Linked DNA regions of Homo sapiens. The protein of the gene in region 4 interacts with the protein of the main gene of each other region in a pairwise test. Each region holds a gene or a part of one and is shown on either strand. Other genes may lie near its edges.

Region 1 (7,268 bases), on a different chromosome or scaffold from region 4:
AACTTAAGCTGCACTTTGAGAAAACGATATAATTTTACAATCTTAGCTCTTACATGTAGAAACCAAATGCTTTATTCAACCAATTTTGAATGTGCACAAATATGGGGTATATTTTTCACGAGCCTTTCTGAATAAACTAGAAGACAAGCTCCAGCCAACCAAGAGATGGGGAAATTTTTGGTAAAAGGACCAGAGATAAACAATTATTAATAACATACTTAACTGGAGATATAAGCCAGTAACAAAGCTGCGGATATGAGTTGTAAAGTGTTATATGTTCTGACAGTGTAGAAACAATATAACCAACAAAAACTGGGAAAGGAATGAGGAGGAAAAGGGAGAAAAGTAGAACAAGCTTGTTGACTGTCTCAGTAGCTGGCAGTCAAAGATAATACTTACAGCTGACATATCAAGTAGTAGATGTATATTCAATAGAACAAAGGTAAACATTAAAAAAAGCCACTGGTCAGGTGCAGTGGCTCATGCTTGTAATCTCAGCACTTTGGGAGGTCGACATGGATCACTTGATCTCAAGAATTTAAGACCAGTTTGGGCAACGTGGTGAAACCTTGTCTCAACAAAAATAAAAAAAAAACTAGCCAGGTATGGTGACATGTGCCTGTAGTCCTAGCTACTTGGAAAGCTGAGGTGGGAGGATTGCCTGAGCCTGGTACGTGGAGGTTGCAGTGAGCCGAGATCGTGCCACTGCACTCCAGCCTGGTGACAGAGTGAGATTCTGTCTCGAAAAAAAAAAAAAAAAAAAAAAAAAGACTACTACTGACTAAACTTGGCAAATGAAGGAGAGAATGGAGTGAAGAATAAAAAGGACATGGTAGGGTACCGATATCTATTGTCAAAAGGAAATAAGTGTATTATAAAGAAGGGAATGAAGTTGTTATCAAGGTAAATCACCAAAACAAAAATATGATCAGAAGTAGTATATATATATTTTTAAAGCAAAGAAACAGACCAGCAAGATAAAACTTCTAAAGCATGTGCACATGCTCACATTTGTAGAGGGGCTGTATCTGTGAGACTGCCCCTGGGGGAGGCCATTAATATGAACGCCATGCCCCAGCTGTCCCTCGCTTGGAGCCTCTTAAGGCAGGATTGGGAGGCTGCTCCCAGGATTAGCATCCCATCCATTCTCACCTTTCTGGCAGCTTTTCAAGATATCTGGTTCCTCAGCTCCCAGAAGATTCAGGACCCAAAGTTCCTTCCCCTGCTCCAGCTGGGAGATCAACTCCGGCTTAGGGACAGGGAATCCTGTTGAGGATGAGGACACTGGTGAGCTGGCATGGCCCACTGGGCCTTCCAGGCCAGGTGTGGAGAGATGGGCCCTGTGTGCACGTGTGTACGCCTGCACGTGTGTTGGTCAGGGGGCCCGTGGGCTGAGACTAAGTACTGAAGGAGAATCCACTCATCAGCTCTCCTGCCACTGGAGGGACACCAGTGGGGCCACTGGCAACAGGGAGTGAAGTCCCTAGAACTGGGGAGCAAGGCAGGCTTTTCCCATGGGAAATGTTCCTTCTGTAGAGATCAGACTGATACCCGGGGACAAGGGGCAGGACCCTCTTCTTTGGGATCCAAAGAGCCAAAGCAGCCTCCCAAGCTCCTCAGAGGCCCCCACTGCGAACCAGGCCAAGTGCAGAGAGCCTCACCCAGAGAGGCCACGTTCCCATAGTTCTCCAGCATCACATCCCGGTAGAGCGCCCGCTGCTGGGGGCCCAGCTGCCGCCCCTCCGCCTGAGAGAAGTACACGGCCACATCCTGGAAGGTCAGCGGCATCTCCTGCAACAAAACATCGCCGCTGCCCAGGCCATGCCCACGGGGCAGCAGCCTGCACTAAAAGGGCCCTGACCTGGTGGGGCCCCACTACCCAGGGCCCTGCTGTGGTCAGTATGAACTGTGTATCAGCAGGTCCCTGATGGGGCAGCTGAGAGCGCTGAGGACCAGCCAACTTCAGCTACACGGGGACCCAGCTGAGCTCAGAGCCCCTCTCCCTGCAGGAGGGCGAGTCTACCTCTCAGAACCCTTTCCTCACGGTTGCTATGAGCCCCTGGCTGGCCTTACCAGTTGCCGGGCTCACGGCTCCAGAGGAGAGTAGCTTCTGACTGGGATGGGGATGAAGATGAAGAGGTGGGCAGGAAGGAGGGTTAACTCACCTGGTGCCCTGGAAGCTGGAATGTGGCTGCCATTCTGTGTGCATGGGCTGCTGTGGTTTCCAAGAGAAGACAGGAGACTGCCCTGGCCTGAAGTCTCCCCGAACTTACCTTCAGTGGGGAGAACTCAGGCTCAGCCCCATTCAACCAGGGGTGTGGAAGGATGGCCAGGAGGCAGAAGCTGATTGCTGCTGTGGCCTCCTGGGTCGCGGGAGGCAGGTCACTATGCAGCACGGGCCGACGTGCCCTACTGCTCAGTGACTCCTGAAATCCCAGAACGGCCAGAGCCAGAGCCCGGGGGGATCCAGGGACGCCCGGCTAAGGGGTGAAAGCTGGCAGTTCCCGTGGTCCAGACCTGCTGAAGGCCCTGGAAATGGGGTGCAGGGCCGTTCTACCTGCCTGGCCAACCTGGGGCAAAGAGCCACGTGAGGGTGCAGCCTCACCAAGGCTGAGGACGTGAGAAGGAGGCCGCGGGGATGCTGCCGAAGGCCCCAGGCTCCGGGGAGAGGCCGGAAGCCAGCTGTGGTCCTCAGTCCAGCCTTCTAGGGCCGCGCCGCGGTCGCCTCCTCCCGGCCTCTGCAGCCCGTCGGTGGCTCCCGCGGCACCCAGAACAGGCTCCTCCTGGACTGGCCGCCGCCTCCCCGCGCCCTCCCCGCGCCCTCCCCGCCTGCCTGCCCGCTTGGCGCTCCTTCCTGGTCCGACACTGCCCCACCTGTTTGCTCGACCCGGGGAAGCCACCGAGGAAGCGCCGAGGAGCTGCGCAGTCGCACCGAGCCCGGAACGGACCCTCCCACAGAACCGGGTCCAGAGCCGGGGAGGGGGCGGGCTAGGATGAAGAGGGCGGGCCGGGCCGAGCTGCGCACACGCAGGCTTCCCCGCCCCCTGCGGGGCCTCAGTACGCCTCCGAGAACGCCGGGAACCGGAAGCCAGCCGCGGTTCCGCCCGGATTCTTCCGGGGCCGCTCTGGGATGACTGGAGGCCTGCGCCGTCTATGGTCGGGGAGGGGGAGAGCCCACGGCAGCTGAGCGGAGGGTCTGGCGCGGTGACGCTGCGCATCCGGGCCGCGCCGCGCTCGCCCCGACCCTAAACCCTCACCTGAACCCTAACCCCGCTGGGCTCCCGGCTCCCCCGTCGGTCACCATACATCGTGTGTCCCGATTCACCATAACCACCAGAAAGTCGCTTATGAAGATGTTACAATTATCGGGGCTCAGAACACAACGCCCCAAAATGAAGGCCTGGGAGGCAGTTTCCCTCTGACCTTCCCAGGCCTCCAGTCTCAGTTCTTTTCTCCCGCGAGGCTCCTCACAGAGTGAATCCCTTTTACCCAAGGCGAGTCCCAGAGGCCAGACCCCCAAAGCCAGCCACAAAACCTAAAAACACGACTCTGATGTTCCCCCCGCTTTTCTGTGTGAAAACTGGCGGTAAAGGCCGGGCGTGGTGGCGGGCGTCTGTAGTCCCAGCTACTCCGGAGGCTGAGGCGGGAGAATCGCTTGAACCCGGGAGGCGGAGGTTGCAGTGAGCCGAGATCGCGCCACTGCACTCCAGCCTGGGTGACAGAGCGAGACTCCATCTCAAAAATAAATAATAAATAAATAAATAATCCATTTATTTGCCTTTTCTCCAAAAATCTGCCTTTTATGAGTTGGCTTTCAGTGAACCTTCAGAGGGCAAAGAGGAACTTTCCCTTTGGCCCCTACACAATAAAGCATGGTTGAAAAAATAGCACTTGATAAAGGTGAGGAGACCAGCTTAGGAGCAGGGGGAGAAGGAAAGGAAAGCCAAGCCATCTTGTCACCCAGAATATAGTGTAGGCCCTGTACACTGTGTTAGAATCAAGGCAGAAATTTTATATCTGAACTTGAGACGATCAACGAGGATGGAGAATGTCTAGAAGTCTAAAGCACCATGCAAAGTCACACATGATTAAGAAGATGCCTTACATTATTAATATCAGTGCTGGGGAGATTGTGGAGAATTACGCACTGCTATGCTTGAGGAAGCGTGTTTAGTACAATGTTGAAAATGAATTAAGCTGTACATAAAGAGCCTTAAACACTTCAATTAATCTAGGAATCTATCCTATGGAAATAACAAAAATGACAAAGAGAAGGGTGCCCATTCCAGAGTTTGTTGTGTGTGTGGTTTTTTTTAAATAATGGGGAGAATTTGGAAAATAGCTAGTTATTCATAGAAGGGGAAATGGAAGATAATTATGCTTTTTGCAGCACAGAAATAGATAAATCTATTGTCTTCTGTACACTCAGTTGAACATTATGCAGCCATTATGTGTGGTATTTGAAAAAAAAGTATTGGCAGAGGGTAATGCTTATGAAATAGAATGTGAAAAATAGAATACAAAATTATATTTATGATATGATCTCAATTGTATATATGGGTGTTTAAGTTCACAAACTTAAGGTTTCCAGATATAAGGACCTAGGTTGGTTTGTTCACTGCTCAGCCACCAGCCTGGAACATAGTAAGTACTCTATAAATACTTGGGAAGTGCTTGAAAAACGTATATAAAAAGCTGAAAATAAATACATCATTACTAGTTGTAAGATTGCAGAATATTTGATTTCCTCTTTTTCTTTTTCACATCTCCTACAGGGGGCGTGTAATCACTCTGTGACTGGTGGCTGCAGGCTCTCCTAATGGATATTTCCTATTTACAGGGCTACCAACTGCCAAGCATCCAAGCAGTCCCTAGGCAGCAATCCAGCAGCTGACAGGGTTACCGGCGTCAACTGCCACAGATGCTAGGCTGGTTTGCCATATTTACATGGATTTGATCAGCAATGAGCACAAAAGATAGAGATTGTTTCTTTCTTTCTTTTTTTTGAGGTGGAGTTTTACTCTTGTTGCCCACGCTGGAGCGCAATGGTGAGATCTTGGCTCACTGCAACCTCCACCTCCCAGGTACAAGTGATTCTCCTGTCTCAGCTTCACAAGTAGCTCGGATTACAGGCATGCAGGACCATGTCCAGCTAATTTTTTTGTATTTCGTAGAGACGGGGTTTCACCATATTAGTCAGGCTGGTGGCAAACTCCTGACCTCAAGTGATCCACCTGCGTCGGCCTCCCAAAGTGCTAGGATTACAGGTGTGTGCCACTGTGCCCAGCCTAGATTGTTTATTTCTTACTCAAACAGCTACAGCATGATCAGCAGCCTGTGTCCCTAGACACACAAGATGACAGCAAACCATAGGGGCCAGATGACAGAAAGCACAGATGGTGGCCACGGTGCTGCTGAGGCGCCAGCTCCACACTGCAGCCAGGCAGTGGTGTGTCCGCAGCTGTACCCCAAGGAGGGGCAAAGGGAGCATCCCAGACGCAGCCAACCAGGGGCCCAGGGGCGCTGCTGTCACTGTCGTTTCTTACAAGGTTGCTTGTCTCCCTTAGTTTCAGGAGGAACCTCCAAGCATTCTGCCAAACTCAGTTCACACGGTGATGGACCTTGCCACACAGCTATGTGAAGATGTCCAAGGTCCTCAGGGCCCAGAACAGAGCTGTTCCCTACTCCACTGACCTCCCTGTTTCTAAAACCAGTGGGCTTTTTTTTTCCTTTGAGACAAGGTCTCTCTCTGTTACCCAGGCTGGAGTGCAGTAGCACAATCTCAGCTCACTGCAACCTTCACCTCCCCGGGCTCAAGCAATCCTCCCACCTCAGCCTTATGAGTAGTTGGGATCACAGATGCGTGCCACCACATCGGGCTAATTTTTTGTATTTTTTTGGTAGAGACAGGGTCTTGCTCTGTTGCCCAGGCTGGTCTCAAACTCCTGACCTCAAGTAATCCACCTGCTTTGGCCTCCCAAAGTGCTGGGATTACAGGTGTGAGCCATAGTGCCTGGCCACCAGTGGGCATTTTTTAGTTTTCCTTTACTTGACCTCTCAGCAATATTTGACACCATGAACTGTCTGTCCTTCTTGGAACACTTGATTTCCTTATCATCAATAATACCACCCTTCCTTCATTTTCTGCCAACCACTCTCAATCTCCTTTGCTACTTTCTCCTCTACTCAGTGTCTGCCCTGCGCATTCTCCTTACTTTATTCTACATTTTCCTCTAAGAGAGCTTACCTTGTCTCATTTCTTCAACTGCTACTTACATGTAAATTACCCCACTTAAAAAAATTCCATCTCAGACCTTTCTTCTGTGTTCAAACCTTTAGAAATACATACTCAGCATATTTACCCATTGGCTGGGCACGGTGGCTCGCGCCTATAATCCCAGCACTTTGGGAGGCCGAGGTGAGCGGATCAACTGAGGTCAGGAGTTTGAGACTAGCCTGGCCAACGTGGTGAAACTCCATCTCTACTAAAACTACAAAAAATTAGCCGGGTGTGGTGGTGCACGCTTGTAATCCCAGCTACTCGGGAGGCTGAGGCAGGAGAATCGCTTGAACCTGGGAGGTGGAGGTTGCAGTGAGCCGAGATCATACCATTGCACTCCAGCCTGGGCGACAGAGCGAGACTCCATGAAGAACAACCACAACAACAACAACAAAAATTTAAGCGGGCCTAACACCCACGGCAAGCAGTGCCGGAGAGGGCAATCAGACTGGGGGCCGGGGCAGGCCCTTGTTCTCACTCCTCACATTCATGACAAATATACCTGTGTCTTGGGAAATTCTGGGGAGGAAAATTCAGACCCTTCCTTCCACCGTACCCTCTCAGGAGGAGTGGTGGGAAGAGAGTGACTTCATTGGGAATCCTTAACCTGGGGGACGGATGGCAATCCGTCTGTATCTTCCTCCAGCTGCCTGAGGTACATTCAGTACTTGCATCACCAGTTTCCACGTACAAAAACACCAGAATTCAGGCAGCCTGGCCAACATAGTGAGAACCCATTTCTAAAAATAAAATAAATAAAATAATAATAAAGCCGATTAGGGACCATGATTTTGCATCTGCAGCCACAAGCGCCTGCTAACTGTCATGAGAAACTGACCCTCCCAGTCATATGTAGAGGCCTCTGCCATGGCAAAGAGCAGACCCCAGTGCATTCCGTCTGATCCCAGGAAGATTGGAAGGACAAAGAAGCTGGAGGGGCGGGAGCTACCTTGTTGCGGGAAGTCAGGGACCCCAAACGGAGGGACCG
Region 2 (3,218 bases), on a different chromosome or scaffold from region 4:
ATGACATTTTACCGTCAAACTTATCCATGAGTAAAAGTTGGGTATACCATATTTTCAGATGTTAATGCTTCCTTGAGATTTAGCAGTTTTAACCTTGACTAATATAGCCCTCTAGTGTTAAGATCATGGGTCTTGGAATAATGATATGGCCTGTCACATGAATTATTTTCCATCTTCAAACTTTGCAATACACTGGATTCTGCAAAGCAAGCTGGCTGATTTGAACATCAAATTATTATTCACAGTATTAGGTAGGAATTATATCTTGTGTAAGAGACACATCCCCAAGGCTCTTTCATTCAGTGTAGCAATACTTATTAAGTGACTATTGCATACTGCACTTCAGTGTCTATAAAAACACACATGAAAACTCTGGAATAGCTGCTTTCTAGGAAACTTGTCAGGTCACACCTTAATAACCAGGAGATTCATAAACCTTATCAGTGGTGAGGTTAACATCTCATGCACTTCTATGAACACCTCTGAGAATGTGAAGTCAGGGCTGGCTTGTAAAAGACAAATGATTCAACACATAGTTTGAACTTTTATTTATGTTTAATTTTTTAATTTTTACAAGATGCCGATAGTAGCTGGCTTATTAATGTACATTATTCTTTGATATTTCAGGAAGCCACAGTGTTCAACTGTGAACTACAGAGTCCTGTAAGTTTAAAATAACTTTGTTTCTCAACTATGTGATATCCAGGATTTTTTACAATTACTTTGAGATTTTTCCTCATCAGTAATGCAAAGAAAATTGCAATATGATTATACAATTTATTTTTATTTTTTTAGACAGGTTATCACTCTGTCGCCCAGGCCGGAGTGCAGGGGTGTGATTGTAGCTCATTGCAGCCTCAAACTCCTGGGCTCAGACGATCCTCCTTCAGCTTCCTAAGTAGCTGAGATTACAGGCACGTGCCACCATGCCTGGCTAATTTATTTTTTGTAGAGAGAGGGGTCTCACTTTGTTGCCCAGGCTGGTCTCCAACTCCTGGGCTCAAGTGATACCCAGCCTGGGCCTCCCAAAGTGCTGGGATTACGGGTATGAGCCACTGTGCCCAGCCTGATATACAATTTCTTCCTCAGACAGTCTGGCTCTGTCGCCCAGGCTGGAGTGCAGTGGCACAATCTTGGCTCACTGCAACCTCTGCCTCCCGGGTTCAAGCAATTCTCCTGCCTCAGCCTCCCGAGTAGCTGGAATTACAGGCATGCACCACCATGCCTGACCAATTTTTGTATTTTTAGTAGAGACCTGGGGTTTCATCATGTTGGCCAGGCTGTTCTTGAACTCCTGACCTCAAGCAATCCGCCCACCTCAGCCTCCCAAAGTGCTTGGATTTCAGGAGTGAGCTTTTGCACCTGGCCTGATATACAATTTCTGATGCTATAGAAGCAATGTATAACTCCTAATTTACTAGTGACTGCTATGCGCTTCATTAACATTATGGACATGTCGATCCCAAAAATCATATAGAAATGTTACTTTTTTTTTGAGACAGGGTTTCACTCTGTCGCCCAGGCTGGACTGCAATGGCGTAAACATGGCTCACTGTAGCCTCAACCTCTCGGGCTCAAGCAATCCTCCTGCCTCAGCCTCCCAAATAGTTGAGACTACAGGCATGTGTCACCACACCCCTTAATTTTTGTATTTTCTTTTCTCATTATGTTGTCCAGGATGGTCTCAAACTCCTGGGCTCAAGGCATCCTCCTGCCTTGGTCTCCTAAAGTGTTAGAATTACAGGCATGAGCCACTGTGCCCAGCCAGAAATGTTAAACTCACTTTATGGTTTCAGAACAAGGATCAAATAAAATAAAAATATAAAAAATAAAATATGGTTGGCCAAGTGTGGTGGCTCAGCCCTCTAATCCCAGCCCTTTGGAAGGCCAAGGCAGAAGGCTCGCTTGAGCTCAGGAGTTCAAGACTAGCCTTGGCAACATAGCAAGACCTCATTTCTGCTAAAAATAAAAAACATTAGCCAGACATGGTGGTCCACACTTGCAGTCCCAGTTATTCAAGAGGCTGAGGTGGGAGGATCACTTGAGCTTGGGAGATCGAGGCTGCAGTGAGCTATCATCGTGCCACTGCACTCCAGTCTGGCGACAGAGCAAGACCTTCTCAAAAATAAAATATGGTCGAAACGGGACAGACAAGGCGGCTACCTGTAACCCTGGCCGCTTTAGGAGCTGGGGCAGGAAAGTTGCTTGAGGCCAGGAATCCGAGACCAGCCTGAGCAACAGCAGGACCCGTCTATGAAAAAACAGGAGCAAGTAGTGGCACATCCCAATTGTGTCAGCTAACTGGGAGGCTGAGGCAGGAGGATCGCTTGAGCCCAGGAGTTCAAGGCTGTACTCCAGCCTGGGCGACAAAGCAAGAACCCTGTTCTCTAGGGAAAAAAAAAAAAAAGTCAAAACATTTCATAAAACTTTCACACAATGGAGGTTTAGTTAAGCTGTTACTCTTCTGTTCAATTTTGTTGCACCTATCAGAAGGCATAATTTCATAAAATCAGGATTCCTTGGCGTTTTAACCACTCTCAAAATATTTGATCCTACTGGAAGTTACTATGCAATGCTATCTTGTCCCTGAATCAACATAATTCAACTATCAGCTTCATATATATATATATATATATATATTTTTTTTTTTTGAGACAGAGTTTCGCTGTTGTTGCCCAGGCTGGAGTGCAATGGCGCAATCTTGGCTCACCACAACCTCCGCCTCCCGGGTTCAAGCGATTCTCCTGCCTCAGCCTCCTGAGTAGCTGGGATTACAGGCACGCACCACCACCGCAGCTAATTTTGTATTTTTAGTAGAGACAGGGTTTCTCCATGTTGGTCAGGCTGGTCTTGAACTCCCGACCTCAGGTGATCCACCCGCCTCGGCCTCCCAGAATGCTGGGTTTACAGGCATGACCCACTGTGCCTGGCAGTTTCGTGTATTCTTACTCCACTGGGTTCTGCTTTATCGTATTGACAGTAGACATTTCATTAAATGAAATGTAAAAAGAACACCAATACATACATATTAAAATTTTCTTACTAGAATCTTTTAGTATAATTTAAAAACCTGAAATGAGAATTCGCATCACTTTAAGTGGGCCTCTTGGGTTTTGAGGATGAAGTGGCTTTCTCTCAGAAATAGCTTTGAACCGTAACTCTAGTAACTACAGTGGCAGGCTCCATAGCTTGAACACAGCGTATTTTGTATCAATGCC
Region 3 (7,036 bases), on a different chromosome or scaffold from region 4:
GGTCACCAAAGGTCAGAACTGGCAGAGACCTCCAGTCCAACCATATCTGTGTAGTCTCTGGAGTTTCAGGGGATGGAGAAGAAGGTAGGGGAGGCAGGGAATTGCAGGGGCCAGAGCTTCCAGGACTTGGGCCTCCCTGCTCTGATATCACTAGAGCAGACCTTAGCAACTCCCTTCCCCACATCTTACCTCATGATTGGTTACTAGCAGTGGCCTTCGGGGCAGGAGAGACCACAGGGTCATTTGGACCAAATCCCCACTCAAAGCTATAGCACTTGGGACTGCAGGGTTCTAGGCTCTGCCTTAACAGGGCCTAGTTGTTGGCCTGGGCCAGGTGCTGAACCTCTCTAAGGCCAGTCTCCTCATCTGTGAAATGCATGGTTCACTATCACTGTGAGGATGAGCTAGAGAGTGATGTATAATAAAACCACCTAGGATGGAGTCACAAGATTCACAAGCTCCAAGATCCAGAGCCTTAGAAGCGGGTTCCGCTCTCCTGCCTTGAAGCCTCCACTTACCACAGGGCTGGGGAGGACAGCTGCCTCCCCCCACACATCTGTGCCTGGATCATAGGTGAAGATTTTGCTCATGAGACCCCCCATGACATAGATGGTGTCCTCAAGGGAGACAGCCTCGAGACACCGCTGTGAGAAGGGTGCTGGTGACCGCAGGCTCCACCGGTCCTCCTTGGGGTCAAAGCACTGCACCTGAGGGGCAAGAGCAGCAGTGGTGAAGACTCACCGCCCCCCCCAACAAATGCCCCACCGCCCACATGCTGCCACCTCTCCCCCCGGGGGCACTCATTCAAAACGACATTTGCCAGTGTCCACCAGGCCTGAGCCAGCATCTGGGAGGGAGGGGGAGGTCCACCGTCCCTGCCCTCAAGGGCTCTTCATCTAGTTCTATGTTCTGTCCTCTGCCTCTGGACTCCCTTTGTCAAAAGCCTCCTCATCTTTCGAGGTCCTGCTCAAATGCCACCCCATCCTTAAAGGTCTCCCTGGTGTTCCCCCCTCCCCTCACCCCTCAACACACACACACAGGAACAGTCTCTCCTTTGATGGAGAACACAGTCGCCTCATGTTAGATTAATCATAGAGCACATCATACTGAGCTGGGAGAGGTACTGTCTGCTTTAGGGTTATAGAGGGTCCTCAGAGCAGACCCCCGACGGGGATGTGTTCCTAGCTGCATACACTGTCAACTCCCTTCTCTTTTCCTGGTGCTCTCAGGTCATTAGATTCTAGCTGAGGTGTCTTGCAGCCCTATTTCTACAGCTGTCCACATGCCCATGGGTGTTTCTGATGCCCTTAACAGTTTCTGTATTTAGCTGCCTGCTCACCTCACTCTCTGTTTCCTCAACTGTTTCCTTGGAGACCCCCTCCCCCCACAGCAGCCTATAACAAATCAGTGCTGCATGGATGGTGTTAAATGGGGCCTCCCACCATGAGTGCCTATCACTCAGCTCCAGGAGGGTTTGCTGGAAGAATGTGGTCAGGGAATAAGGAAGCGTGGGCACCCTAATTTGGGAAAGAGTCAAGTCCTAGGACCACAGGCTTATGAGGCCATCAGGGGAGGGAAGGAACTGCTATGATAAATATTTTTATTTGCAAAAAGCCTAAATGTCCCAACAATAAAAGATGAGTAGACTCTAGTTCATCCACCATGTGGAATAGTACAGACATTGAAATGATGGCTGTAAAGTTGATAATCACGTGGAAAATGCTCATACCTAAATTAGAATAAAATGCAGAATGCAAAATTCTAACAAAACAAAACTGTAAGAAAAACAAAAATCAATTCAGTGGAAGCCTGTAAGGCAACACACCAAAATATGAATAGCAGCTCTGCCTAGACGGTGGGATTATGGGTTTTTTTTTTTTCTATTTTTCTGTGTTTTCTAAATTTTCAGTAGTAAGTGTATTGTTTTTGGAATGGAACAAAAGCATTTTAACTATCTTGCCCTCAATTTTTAAAATGTATGAAACTTACATGGCACCAGCCCAAACATTTGAGTCCCAGTGTGCTGCTGACCCACTGTGTGACCTTGGGGTCATTTTTCTGCTCATTTCCTTCCCTGAAACATGGAGGTGACTGGTCTGGGCTGTTGATGGGATTAAGTGAATAAATGGACAAGGGCATGGAAACGCCCAATTCTGCGCCTGGCACACAGTGGGCACCCCAGCCTTCAACGCCCTCTCGCGCCTGAGGCCCACGCCCACCTTGTCCGTGTTGACGCCGCCCTGCCTGGCGCCCCCAATCACGAAGAGCTTGCCCGCGCAGGACGCCACCGCCGCCGAGCTCACGGCCTCCGGGAGGGGCGCGGCGGCCGCCCAGGTGTTGGAGAAGGGGTCGTAGCGCTCCACGCTGTGCAGGCGCCTCAGGCCGTCGAAGCCACCCACCGCGAACAGCTGCAAGTGAGGACATGGGCCGGGGAGCCGGGTGCCAGGGCCTTAGGGCCCTCGGCCTCATCGCTTCAGTCCTTACAGTCTTTGAGCTGGAAACTATCCCTGTCCCCAACCCAGTTTCAGGACCAAACTGACCCCCGAGCCCAGTGCTGCCACCACCTGGGCAGCCTCCACCCAGTTGCTGTACCTCCCTGAGCCGGTTTCCTCTCATTTAGCGGGGATGAGACCTTAACCTGCATGGTTACAGCTGTAAAATACCTGGCACCAAGCTGATGCTTAATAATAATAGCTAGTATTGAGACTTTACCACCCCACTTAATTGATTCTAAGAAGCATCTTTGTTTCTGAATTCGGGATGTAGCTTACAAAGATAATTGACTTTTTTTTTTTTTTTTGAGACAAAGTCTCGCTCTGTTGCCCAGGCTGGAGTGTAGTGGTGCAATCTGGGCTCACTGCAAGCTCCGCCTCCCAGGTTCATGCCATTCTCCTGCCTCAGCCTCCTGAGTAGCTGGGACTACAGGCACCAGCCACCACGCCGAGCTAATTTTTTGTATTTTTAGTAGAGACGGGGTTTCACCGTGTTAGCCAGGATGGTCTGGATCTCCTGACCTCGTGATCCGCCCGCCTTGGCCTCCCAAAGTGCTGGGATTACAGCCACTGCGCCCGGCCGACAGATTCTTTTATTCTTGAGTGGCACAGTCAAGATTCAAACCTAGACTCTATGGCCCCAGAGCCCATACCCTTGACCATCAGGCTGTTACTATTACAGTAATTGCTATTATTATTAGCATCAGCCATTATTATGTGACCTTGGACAAGTCTCCTTTTTTGGGGGGCTTCAGACCCCTTCTTACAAAGAGAGGGTTTTAGAGAACCTCCCTCCAGCACATCCACAGATCTGTACCTTGTGTCCCAGGGCAGCCGCTGCAGCTCGTGCCTACCTGCCCCTGCACAACTGCCATCTTGTGCCTCCACCTGCCCTTGTGCAGAGAGGCTACCTTGATCCAGGTGTGCAGATGGGAGCTAAACATCCACACATCATGACTGTTGATGTGGCCTCCTAGGGAGAGAGAAGCAGCTGTTGCCCATCGGCTCTCTTGCTATCCCAAGCACCCCCAAAGAGCTAGAAACTAGGGCCCCCAGATCCAAAGGAAGGGTTAAGGGAAGGCAGCAGGAGGACTTCTTGAGCTGGTGTAAGACTCTGGACCTGTGACCCAGTGTGCTTTGAATAAGTGGTGGGAATGTCTGAGTTACGACCCTCGAGGGGAGAAGCCTGACACATTCAGGAAGAAGGGGCTGGTTTTCGCCGGGCACCTTGTGGTGGTGGTGGTGGTGTGCCAGGCTCTGTGCTCAGGAAAGCAAAGAGGGGGCCGCTGTACTAAAGGTAAGAGTACAAAGGGTACCTAAGGCAAGCATCTGGAATGTACTGGGGATCCAGGAAAAGCAGAGCCAGCTGCACTGGGAGCCAGGATAGGTAGAGGGTGACCCAATAACCCTCCCTCCCTTCTGCCTTCACCTGCACAATTTCATTTCTGATCTCATCCCTCCATGAGGTGTTGGGAATATTAGACCCAGTTTACATATAAGAAACTCAGATGAGACTTAGAGACCAACAATGACCTGCTGAAGACTACATGGCCTTTTGTCAGAGCCAGAACCAGAGCTTCTGGCTCCAGGCCCAGCATTGGTGCTGCTGGAGGACATGGCATGCCCTATGGGGCCAGGTACTGGGGATGCAGGATGTGGACTCTCCCTTCCCATGTCTGGCCACCCTGGGGATCTTGGCCAGGGATTCACCTCTCAATGGGAGCCTCCCTGGGGACAACCCTAACTGCACCCTTCAGCCTGAGCCTGTGACCAGAGCCACATCTGTTTGGTAGCCCCATCTTTGTTTATTCCTAGTGGCACCCAACAAAGGCCCCACATGTTGCTCAGAGCCATCAATGGCCTTGGATAAATTGTCCAGTGGTAATCTGTGGCCTGGATGGTCTGTGAGGCCTCCCTGGCTTATTCTCCTGCTCCTTACTCTTTGCAGGCACCCATAGTTCTTTACAACATTAAGGTCAATCCACCTAGCCCCAGACTCAAAGCCTCCCTGATCTGACTCCTGCCTCACCTGTGATACTCAACCTGCACTTCAGAGCCCTGAGTCCCCAGGGTTCCTTTCTGCATGTCCCTGCCCTTGTGCCTTTGCCCATACTGTTCCCTCCAACTTTCAAGGTCCAGCTGAAAAGTCATCTCTTCTATGAACCCTGGCTAGATTCCCTGAGTGGCATTCCAGATCATCTGGGGACTCTGAGAATTCTGATCACATTCTGCCTGGCAGTAAAAGTGAAGTCTCTCTCCTCTCCAGGACACTCCAGGGGAGCAAGGACTGTGTTTTATGCTTCTCTGAGTCTTTAGGGCTTGAGCCTTAGGGAGGACACAGTTTGTTGGTATCAAACAGATGTGTGTTCCTCCTAGCTTTGCCATTTTTGAGACAATGGGGGAAATTCTGAGCCTCTCCGAGCCTTTCTTATCTGTAAAACAGCATTGTAGGGGGATTTAATGATAACGAATGTAAGCTTCTTAGCATAATGTTCGGCACATAGTAGGCTAGTTGAAGTGATTATTAATACTAATACGAATTGACTTCCTTAGGAAGCCGGTTCAGAACAAAAAGTAATCATATGTATTGAAGTTAACATTCCTGAATAAAGGGCGGGTCACACGCGTAGTTAGCCCTGCTCACTTCAGCCAATAACTGTAGGTTATCAGAAAACATCCCGCCCCTCTCTCCCGATTGGAGGGAAAAGCAAAGGGGGTGGAGTGCGGAGGCTACTAGTCAATCCCGTGTGAGCTCCCGTTGCGGCTCCGCCCTCACCGGAGACGTAGACGTCATTGCGGAGAGCACAGGCGGCGAATTCTGAGCGAGTGTAGCCGGGCAGGCTGGGCAGTGGGGTCCACCGCTGGCTCTCTGGATGGTAGGCATCGGCGAAGGGCAGCTTCAGGAGACCTTTGCGGTCGCAACCGCCGATGACCACGATCACTTCAGCTAGGTCCATGAATCTGGCGTGCGGATAAGCCCAGTGCCTGTTGGGCCGCACCCAAGTTCGGCCCTCTCTTACCCTCTCGACCACACTGCACGGTCCCGCTGCCCTTTCATGCGTTTCTGCCATCACCCCCGCCCACCCGATCCCCCGGCCTCAATCCCGCTAGACCCTGCCACTTCCAACTTTGCCTGTGGGTACTGGGAAGAGAATCGCTAATGCTTACCGCATTCTGCTGACCTCTAAACTACAGAAAAAAAAATCTTTACAGAGCCCTTGCCCTCACCTAGAAAAATCACCTCGTTTAATCTGTATGGCAGTTCTATTAGTAGGGATTATTACCCCTTTCTCAGGGGAGGAAACTGAGGCTCACATACCATGGCGTGCCCAAAGCCATTAAGCGTCAGAGCTGGAATTCAAGCCCAGGTTTGTCTGTCGCTAACTCATCTTCAACACCCTTTTCTCACCTCCAACCGCTGATTCTGCTGCCTCCCTCCTCCTATGACATCCCCTCATCCCTAATTCCATTAAGCCGGATAACTCACCCTTTCAGTAAATCATTCTTCCCTCTCACTGACCCCACCATCTGACGCCACCAGAATTTCCATACCCTTTTAGCCATTGGTTTTCTAATTCCTTTGGCACATATTTGAGGATCTCTGTCCCAGGCCCTGTGCTTAGTGTTAGAGAGAGTGTCGTCTCTGGGGGCATGATTAAGGGCTACTCTGCCCAGAGCCTCCCAGTCTGGCTTTCCAAAGGTGGGGCAGGCTGCTTTCACTACTTCCCCATGCCCCTGCCTATTTCTATCCCTCATTAGACTGCGAGCTCCCAGAGGGCAAAGAGTGTTTTCAAATCACTTCCGCATCCCGGCACCCTGCACAGAACTTGCGTAGAGTAGTAAGTACTCGGAATTACGGTTGCATGGGCCAAAGAGAGTGTGCGCAGCTGTGGGGTCTCTGCATCTCCCTCACTGGCTTGTTAACTCTTCAAGGGCAGAATTATGGGCACCGAGCCTCTAAAATGTTGAACGAATGACTGAATATCATCAAGAGGCAGTACTAAAAGATGATGAAAGAATGAATGAGCGGTGGAAGCAGGCGGGAAGAACGGAGGGCGGGAAGCTAGGGGATGGCGGCCCTACCTCCGCGGCCGGGTCCGCAGCGCACCGGCCTCGCGGCCCAGGATGAAGCAGGCGCGAGCCTCGAGCAGCAGCGGGCGGCACTCGCCGCAGGCCTGCAGCAGCTCGTCCGCCTCCACCTTCTCCAGGAAGTAAGCGGGCGCCAGTAGCGGCAGGCGCACGTGCTCCAGCAGGCGTCGCAGCTGGCCGCGGCGGGCCGGCGCGTCGTGGCGCACCCAGCGCATGGCCGCTTCAAACACGGCCTCCTCGCGCGCCACGCCCAGCGCGGGGTCCGCCAGCAGCGCCACCACCTCGTCAGGCGCCAGCTCCAGGAAGTCGGCGTGGCGCGCCACCTCGGCGAAGGCCTGACGCAGGACGCGGCCGCAGCGCTCGGCCAGCGGGGCCAGCGAGAAGGCGGCGGCCACGCGGCGCAGCGCTAGGCTGTTGGCGGCGCGCAGGCGGCCCTCGAGAAAGCGCACGCAGGC
Region 4 (7,036 bases):
GCTTGTGTGTGGAAGGAAGGCCGCATGGGGGAGCGGTGAGGAGGTGGCCATCTGCAAGCCATGGAGAAAGGCCTCAGGAGAAGCTAAACCCTGATTTTGGACTTCCAGTCTCCAGAACTGTGAGAAAATAAACTTTTGTTGTATAAGCCACCCTGTCTGTGGTATTTTGTTATGGCAGCCTGAGCAGACTAACACAGAATGTAAGTTCTTACCGCTGCCTCTGGGAAGGGCAACTCCTGACAGTGCCTCCAACACGGAGCTCTTGCCCGAGCTCTGGTCCCCGATGACGGCGATGGCTGGCAGGGCCAGGTCCTGCTCCACACCTAGAGCCCGCAGGGAGTCAATGAGGTCGATGCAGGGGCGCACCTTCTCCTCATACTGGCTGCACAGGTTGTTCTCAGCCACCTGGAGGAAACAAAAATGGAGAATTCTTCATGGCCTGCAAATCATGCTCATGATATGGTTTGGTTCTGTGTCCCTACCCAAATCTCATCTCGAATTGTAATCCCCATAATCCCTACGTGTCAAGGGAGAGACCAGGTGGAGGTAATTGGATTGTGGGGGAGGTTTCCCCCATGCTGTTCTCATGATAGTGAGTTTTCATGAGGTCTGATGGTTTTATAAGTGTTTGGCAAGTTCCTCCTTCAGTCATTCTCTCTCCTGCCACCTTGTGAAGAGATGCCTTCCTCCATGATTGTAAGTTTCCTGAGGCCTCCCCAGCCATGTGGACTGTGAGTCAATTAAACCTCTTTTCTTTATAAATTACCTAGTTTCAGGCAGTTCTTTATAGCAGTGTGAGAATGAACCAATACACTCCATTAAAGACGGCCAACTTCAATAAGTCTAATACACAGGTTACTGGAATCCCCAAAAGAGAATGGAAGAGAGACAGAAAAAAATATTTGAAGAAATAATACATACAATTCCCTCAAACTTAATGAAAACCATAAACCCAAAGATCCCAGAAACTCAACAGACATTAAGCACAGCAAACATAAACATCATCAAGCCATAAGAGGGTCAAATTGCTCAAAACCAGTAATAAAGAGAAAATGTTAGGAGCAGCCAGAGAATGATACAGTGTGAGCAGAGGGACACAAATGAGAAATCTGCTGTCAATCTTATCAGAAGCAATAACAAGCGAGAAGACAGTGAAGCAGTATTTTTAAAGTACTGAAAAACACCATCAATCTAGAATTCTATACCCAGCAAAAATAACTTTTAAAAATGAAGGCAAAACAAAGACTTTTTTAGCCATTCAAAAGCTTAACTAATTCATTACCAGCAGACCTGCACTACAGGAAATGTTAAAGAAGTTCTTTAGGTAGAAGGAAAATGATACTGAATGGAAATCTGGATCTATACAAAGGAGTCTATACTAGAAGGGGTAACTACTACACTTTTTTGTATTCCTTTGCTATCTTTATTTAAAAGATAATTGAATGTTTGAACATCAATAATAACAATGTATTGTGGGGTTTATGATGTATGTAAAAGATGCATGATAGAAATAGTATGAAGGCTCAGAGCAGAGAGATGGAAATACACTATTCTAAGGTTCTCGCACTATACATGAAGTGACAGACTATCACTTGAAGGTTGACTTATTAAGTTAAAGATATATACTAAAAACACCAAGAGTTATACTTAATAAGACAACAAAGGAGACATGATGGAATCATAAAAAATAATCCAAGAGAAGGCAGAAAAAGACGAAAGGGGGAACGAAGAACAGACGGGACAAATAGAAAACAAATAGCAAGATGATATTCTCAAATCTAATTATATTACCAGTCACATTAAATAGAAATGATCTAAATATTCTTAGTCAAAATGACTTTGAAAAAGAAGAACAAAGTCAGAGGACTAGCATTACCTAATTTCCATAATTACTATAAAACTAAAGTAATCAAAATAGTGAAGTACTTGCATAAAAACAGAGAAAGCAGCAGACTTCACACTCGGTCCTGCCTACCTACCAGCAGCTGGGTGCAATTTTCCTAAAGTGGGCTGATTGAGGTTCAGGAAGAAAATATGAGAAAATCATTTTGTCTTTTACCTCTTTCTAATGACTATTTTTGTGCATGCTTCATCATAGACAGACGTTTTTACTAGAATAGCTTCTTTATAACAGGACAAGAAGCTATTCATATTTGGGGTTAGAAGATTGTTTGTTGCAGGGGCTACCCTACACATTGTAGGAGGTTTAGCCAAATACCTGGCCTCTATTCACTATTCACCCTGAGTTGTGACAACCAAGATGTCTCTAGACCTGGCCACAAGTTCCAGGGAGCAAAATGGGCCCTGACTGAGAAAGAACCACAGCCTTACCAAATGCATGAATACAGTTGGTAGCCTCGGTCTTAGTTCACCTTATAACTTTTTGTTTGTTTTCATTTATTTATACTATCTATTTACAAAAGTGTGTCAAACATAATAAAGCAAATATGCATGTACCAACCACTTGGGTTAAGAACACAAACACTCCCAGTACTTAGGACATTGCACACACCTCCCTGGGTCAACTCCTTCACCTCCAGAGGGTCCCTCTATCCTGAGGCTTGCAATCATCACATCCTTGCTTTTCTTTATAGTTTTGCCACCTATATGTTTTTCCCACAATGGTATATTGCCTATTGCTGCCTGTTGGGGAATTTTACGTAAGTGGAATCATTTTGTATATTTCCTGTAACTTGATTCTTTGGTTCAACGTTGTTCATTTGATGCAGCCATTTTGATACCTGGAACTCTAGTTCATTCCTCTTTACTACTGTATAGAATTCTGCTACATGAACATACCACACTCCCAGTATCCATTCCACCATGACAGGCACGTAGACAGGGTCTGAGTTTTGCTGTTATAAACAGTGCTGCTATGCATGTGGCTCCCAGGGGGATGTGCAAGGGTTTACACATGGTCCTCAAACTCCAGCACACAGCAGAATCACCTGGAGAGCCTGGTAAAGCACAGGGGGTGGGCCCTGCCCCAGAGTGTCCAATTCACCAGGTCTAAGAGTGGGAGGAGGGGCTGGTCATTTGCATTTCAGTCAACTTCCCAGGTGATGCTAATGGGCTGGGCTGGGGGCCACACTTTGAGAACCACAGTCTATCCCCAGAAGTGGAACTGCCAGATCACGAGACACACTCTGTTCTCCTTGACTGGAAAAGGCCAAGCTGCTTCCAAAGCACGCAAGTATGAGTGGGTGAGAGTTCCTCCTGCCCCATACCCTGACATAATTACATCTCTTACAGCCAGACAAGAGACGCACCAGGGACGGAAATGCAGAAAAATGTAAACGGTGGTATCAGGGTGGTGGAAAGGTGGTGGTCCTCTGTATTTTTCTAAACGCTTCAATGTTTTTTGAATATTGTTTGAAAAATTGTTTAACATTGCCTAGGAAAACAGAGCCAGCCTGAAACAGACCAGTGATCCACGGTAATAAGAAACTGAGCACTCTGAGTACCTGGACACTCCCTGCACTTTGCTCTCAGCCATATAAAGCAAAGACCATTATTCTCATTTTAGATATGGAAAACCAGGCTTATAACAGGAGGAATAACTACCCACAATCACACAGCTGAGAGTGTCAGCGTCGGGACCAACTGAGGTTGGACTGATTCCAGGGGCCATGATTGGTTCCCACCAAAAATATGTCTTGATTCTGGGCAAAAAATTCACCACGTGGCTTCCCTACAAAGATAATATCTTAATGATGCCCCAGGGTTTGTAGCTTGAGACTGAATCATGATGTGGGCAGGAAAAACAAACCTAGTGCTCCTTGAACCCAGGGCCTGGGCCAGTTCCTTCTAGTATAGATGAGCTGAACCCATCGACAGCTCAGCCAGTGTCCCCAACCCCAGCAGCACCTCCACCCACGGTGAGCTAAGGCAACGAGTCTATACATGGTTGTCAGCTGGCAAGTAGAGGGTCAGGATCTGCGTCCTGGCACAGGAGAGGCGAGAGAGCAGGCATATCTGGGCAGCAGTAGCACCGCTGTAGAAAAGGGCAGCCTCGAATGGGCATGGCTCATGTCACATGGATAGCGACTTTCAGAGAGCAACTTACCGAGCCTGGATTTTTCTGGGCCACAGTAGCATCTCCATTCAGTAATAGAGGGTGGGATGCAGCAGCTGGATCAGCTTTTGCGATGTCCACTTCGGAAACAACCATCTTCCTTCTTTGCAAAGTAAGCTTAAAATAAAGCAGATGCCTATTGAACAGATAAGCAGCTGGGTGCATTCAACCATGGAACCAAACCCACCACCAGAACGGAAGGCCCCTGGAGGTGGGGACTCTGACTAGTTGTTCATGGTGATGTCCCCAGAGCGTAGAAGAGTGCCTGGGACACAGTGTGTGCTCACTGGCTTTTTATTCACGGAAAGAGAAACAGAGTGACCCAAAGAAGCCAAGGTCAGATAAAGACAAACGCTGCCTCCCTGCTCAAGGCGCTTCAAGAATATCCCTCCAGGCCGGGCCCCGGGGCTCACGCCTGTAATCTCAGCACTTTGGGAGGCTGAGGCAGGTAGATCATGAGGTCAGGAGTTCAATACCACCCTGGCCAAGATGGTAAAACTTGTCTCTACTAAAAATACAAAAAAATTAGCCAGGCATGGTGGCGGGCACCTGTAATCCCAACTACTCAGGAGGCTGAGGCAAAGAATTGCTTGAACCTGGCAGGCAGAGGATGCAGTCAGCTGAGATCACGCCACTGCACCCCAGTCTGGGCAACAGAGCAAGACTCTGTCTCAAAAAAAAAAAATAGAATATGCCTCTGTTCCCCAAAATATTTTCTAAAACTATCTCCTGTCATAATTTTAGGTTGAACTTCAAAAACGTTTTCAGTATAAATTTGAATAGTTGCAAAGTATACAACTTCTGATGCAGTTGTAATACAATTAAAAAGTTTACATTTAAAGGCTGGGCACAGTAGCTCACGCCTGTATCCCACCCAGCACTTTGGGAGACCAAGGTGAGTGGATCACCTGAGGTCAGGAGTTCGAAGCGAGCTTGGCCAACATAGTGAAACCCCATCTCTACTAAATATACAAAAATTAGCTGGAAGTGGTGGTGTGTGTTTGTAGTCCCAGCTACTTGGGAGGCTGAGGCAGGAGAATCACTTGAACCTGGGAGGTGAAGGTTGCAGTGAGCCGAGATCGCACCACTGCACTCCAGCCTGGGCGACAGAGCGAGACCCCGTCTTAAAAACAACAACAAACAAAAACTTTACATTTAAAAATAAAATTGTTATAGAACTGTTTCCAATGTAGCCAAGAGAATCCAAATATTACGGTAATTTGATACCCAAACCTTTAGTTTAAAAAACACGTGAGCTCTAAATCTTTTATGCTCTTTCTTTTGATCATCAATTTCATATTGTCATTCTTTTACTCCCACAAATGGGGGAAATGAAATGTCATTCATTTTACTCTTGAAAGCATGTAACTGACTGCCTTATACTTGTCTGCATTACAAATACACACGTATGTATTTGAAATTCATTTTTAAAATGTTGTAGGACAAGTGCCTAAATATGAAATTTTACAGTGTCTAATAATCTTGGATAAAAGTAACTGAAAATCTTTCTCCTATGACTCAAAATAAATGTTACAGAAAATAGCATGCACCAACTTACCTCTAATATACGTTCCTTCAAATAAAAGTAATGTCAACAAGTTAAATGGTATCACAGAGCTGTTCTCCTGCACCTCCTTGAAATCAAGCAAAGTGTACAAGTAAGACCCAAACCCGCGGAACACCCGAGAGTACCCACCCACCCAGTCCCATTCCCAAGTCTGAGAACCGGGCAAGTGCAGGAGGGGTGTGCTCTGAAGCCGATTCTGACTTCCCAGAATCCTTTTCCTATGTTTTGACTATTTTAACTATTTTAACAGATGAATAAAGCACAGAGCTTTGCTGCAAATCTGCTGCCTGGATCAATAATATGTAAGGATGCTCTCCTTGCTTCCCCTCGCAGGAATCTCCCCCGAGAGCCATGTGATCTTTGTCAGTACCATGAGGGTTGAAGGGACAGGTTGTTAAAACAAAACTCATCACCCCTGCCTGTCACCCTGCTCTGTAACATATCTAGCTGCACACCTGAGCCAATGCCATTTCTCCATCACACTGGAGTTCACAGAAACGCCCATGTCAGGAAGGTTGGGAAGTGCTGCCATGGGTTCATGCTGCCTTGGCTAAAGAACACGTCCCCAACACCAATACTTAAAACTATCCTTTTCTGTCTCCCTTCCCCGGGTTTATACACTTCCAGGGCAGGCATCCTTGCTCGATTTGGAAGGGAAGAAAGGGATGTATTTCTTTCTTTTTTTTTTTTTTTTTGAGACAGTCTCGCTTTGTCACCAGGCTGGAGAGCAGTGGCGCAATCTTGGCTCACTGCAACCTCCACCTCCCGGGTTCAAGCGATTATCCTGCCTCAGGCTCCCAAGTAGCTGGGACTACAGGTGCACGCCACCAGACCCGGCTAATTTTTTGTATTTATTTAGTAGAGATGGGGTCTCACAGTGTTAGCCAGGATGGTCTCAATTTCCTGACCTCGTAATCTGCCCACCTCTTTTGTCAGGTAGGATTGGGATGGTTATAAAAGGTAATCCATTGTAAACGGTACTTATGGAGTCTGACAATCTGGGAATTTATTCCCTAAAACTCCCATGCCTTTGGAAATACCTCATGTGCCCAGGGCATCCCAGGCTCGATATCAAAGACCACCACTTCATCTGCCTCTCAGGAGTACCAGTCTTCTGGGCTATGGTTGCCTCAGTTGGCCTTTCTGCAGCCAGATAAGGAGCATCATTGAGACCAGGACTTGTACCACATGACCACAGGTTCCACTCAATCAGCTGAAACAGGACTTGGTGAGTAGATTCCCTTCCCTAATTTGCTTCATAAAATGAGATTCTCTGAAAGCTAAACCTTATGGGTTTTGTCTGTAAACCATAAACGTTTGTACCTTTCCCTGATCATTCGGAACATCAGTTTGGATTTCAGGGGCAGGGCAATCTCGGGAGTTCAAACCGGTTT

Evidence for each region.
Region 1: the proteins of MX1 (region 4) and ZNF251 interact in a two-hybrid assay, tested with the Homo sapiens proteins (one study listed by BioGRID).
Region 2: the proteins of MX1 (region 4) and SLC25A3 interact in a two-hybrid assay, tested with the Homo sapiens proteins (one study listed by BioGRID).
Region 3: the proteins of MX1 (region 4) and KLHL35 interact in a two-hybrid assay, tested with the Homo sapiens proteins (one study listed by BioGRID).

What each region holds. Positions count from the first base shown.
Region 1 is NC_000008.11:144,752,531-144,759,798, forward strand, and holds the start of ZNF251 (zinc finger protein 251), read right to left. Parts: upstream 3,002-7,268; 5' UTR 2,875-3,001; intron 2,847-2,874; exon of another isoform or gene 2,274-2,846; 5' UTR 2,199-2,273; coding exon 2,166-2,198; intron 1,792-2,165; coding exon 1,662-1,791; intron 1,267-1,661; coding exon 1,153-1,266; intron 1-1,152. UniProt on the Homo sapiens protein: May be involved in transcriptional regulation.
Region 2 is NC_000012.12:98,603,686-98,606,903, reverse strand, and holds the end of SLC25A3 (solute carrier family 25 member 3 isoform b precursor), read right to left. Parts: 3' UTR 537-3,218; downstream 1-536. UniProt on the Homo sapiens protein: Inorganic ion transporter that transports phosphate or copper ions across the mitochondrial inner membrane into the matrix compartment. Mediates proton-coupled symport of phosphate ions necessary for mitochondrial oxidative phosphorylation of ADP to ATP.
Region 3 is NC_000011.10:75,423,174-75,430,209, forward strand, and holds part of KLHL35 (kelch-like protein 35), read right to left. Parts: coding exon 6,576-7,036; intron 5,454-6,575; coding exon 5,269-5,453; intron 3,466-5,268; coding exon 3,347-3,465; intron 2,409-3,346; coding exon 2,220-2,408; intron 708-2,219; coding exon 519-707; intron 1-518.
Region 4 is NC_000021.9:41,429,206-41,436,241, reverse strand, and holds part of MX1 (interferon-induced GTP-binding protein Mx1), read right to left. Parts: intron 5,710-7,036; 5' UTR 5,634-5,709; intron 4,212-5,633; exon of another isoform or gene 4,193-4,211; 5' UTR 4,172-4,192; coding exon 4,067-4,171; intron 406-4,066; coding exon 213-405; intron 1-212.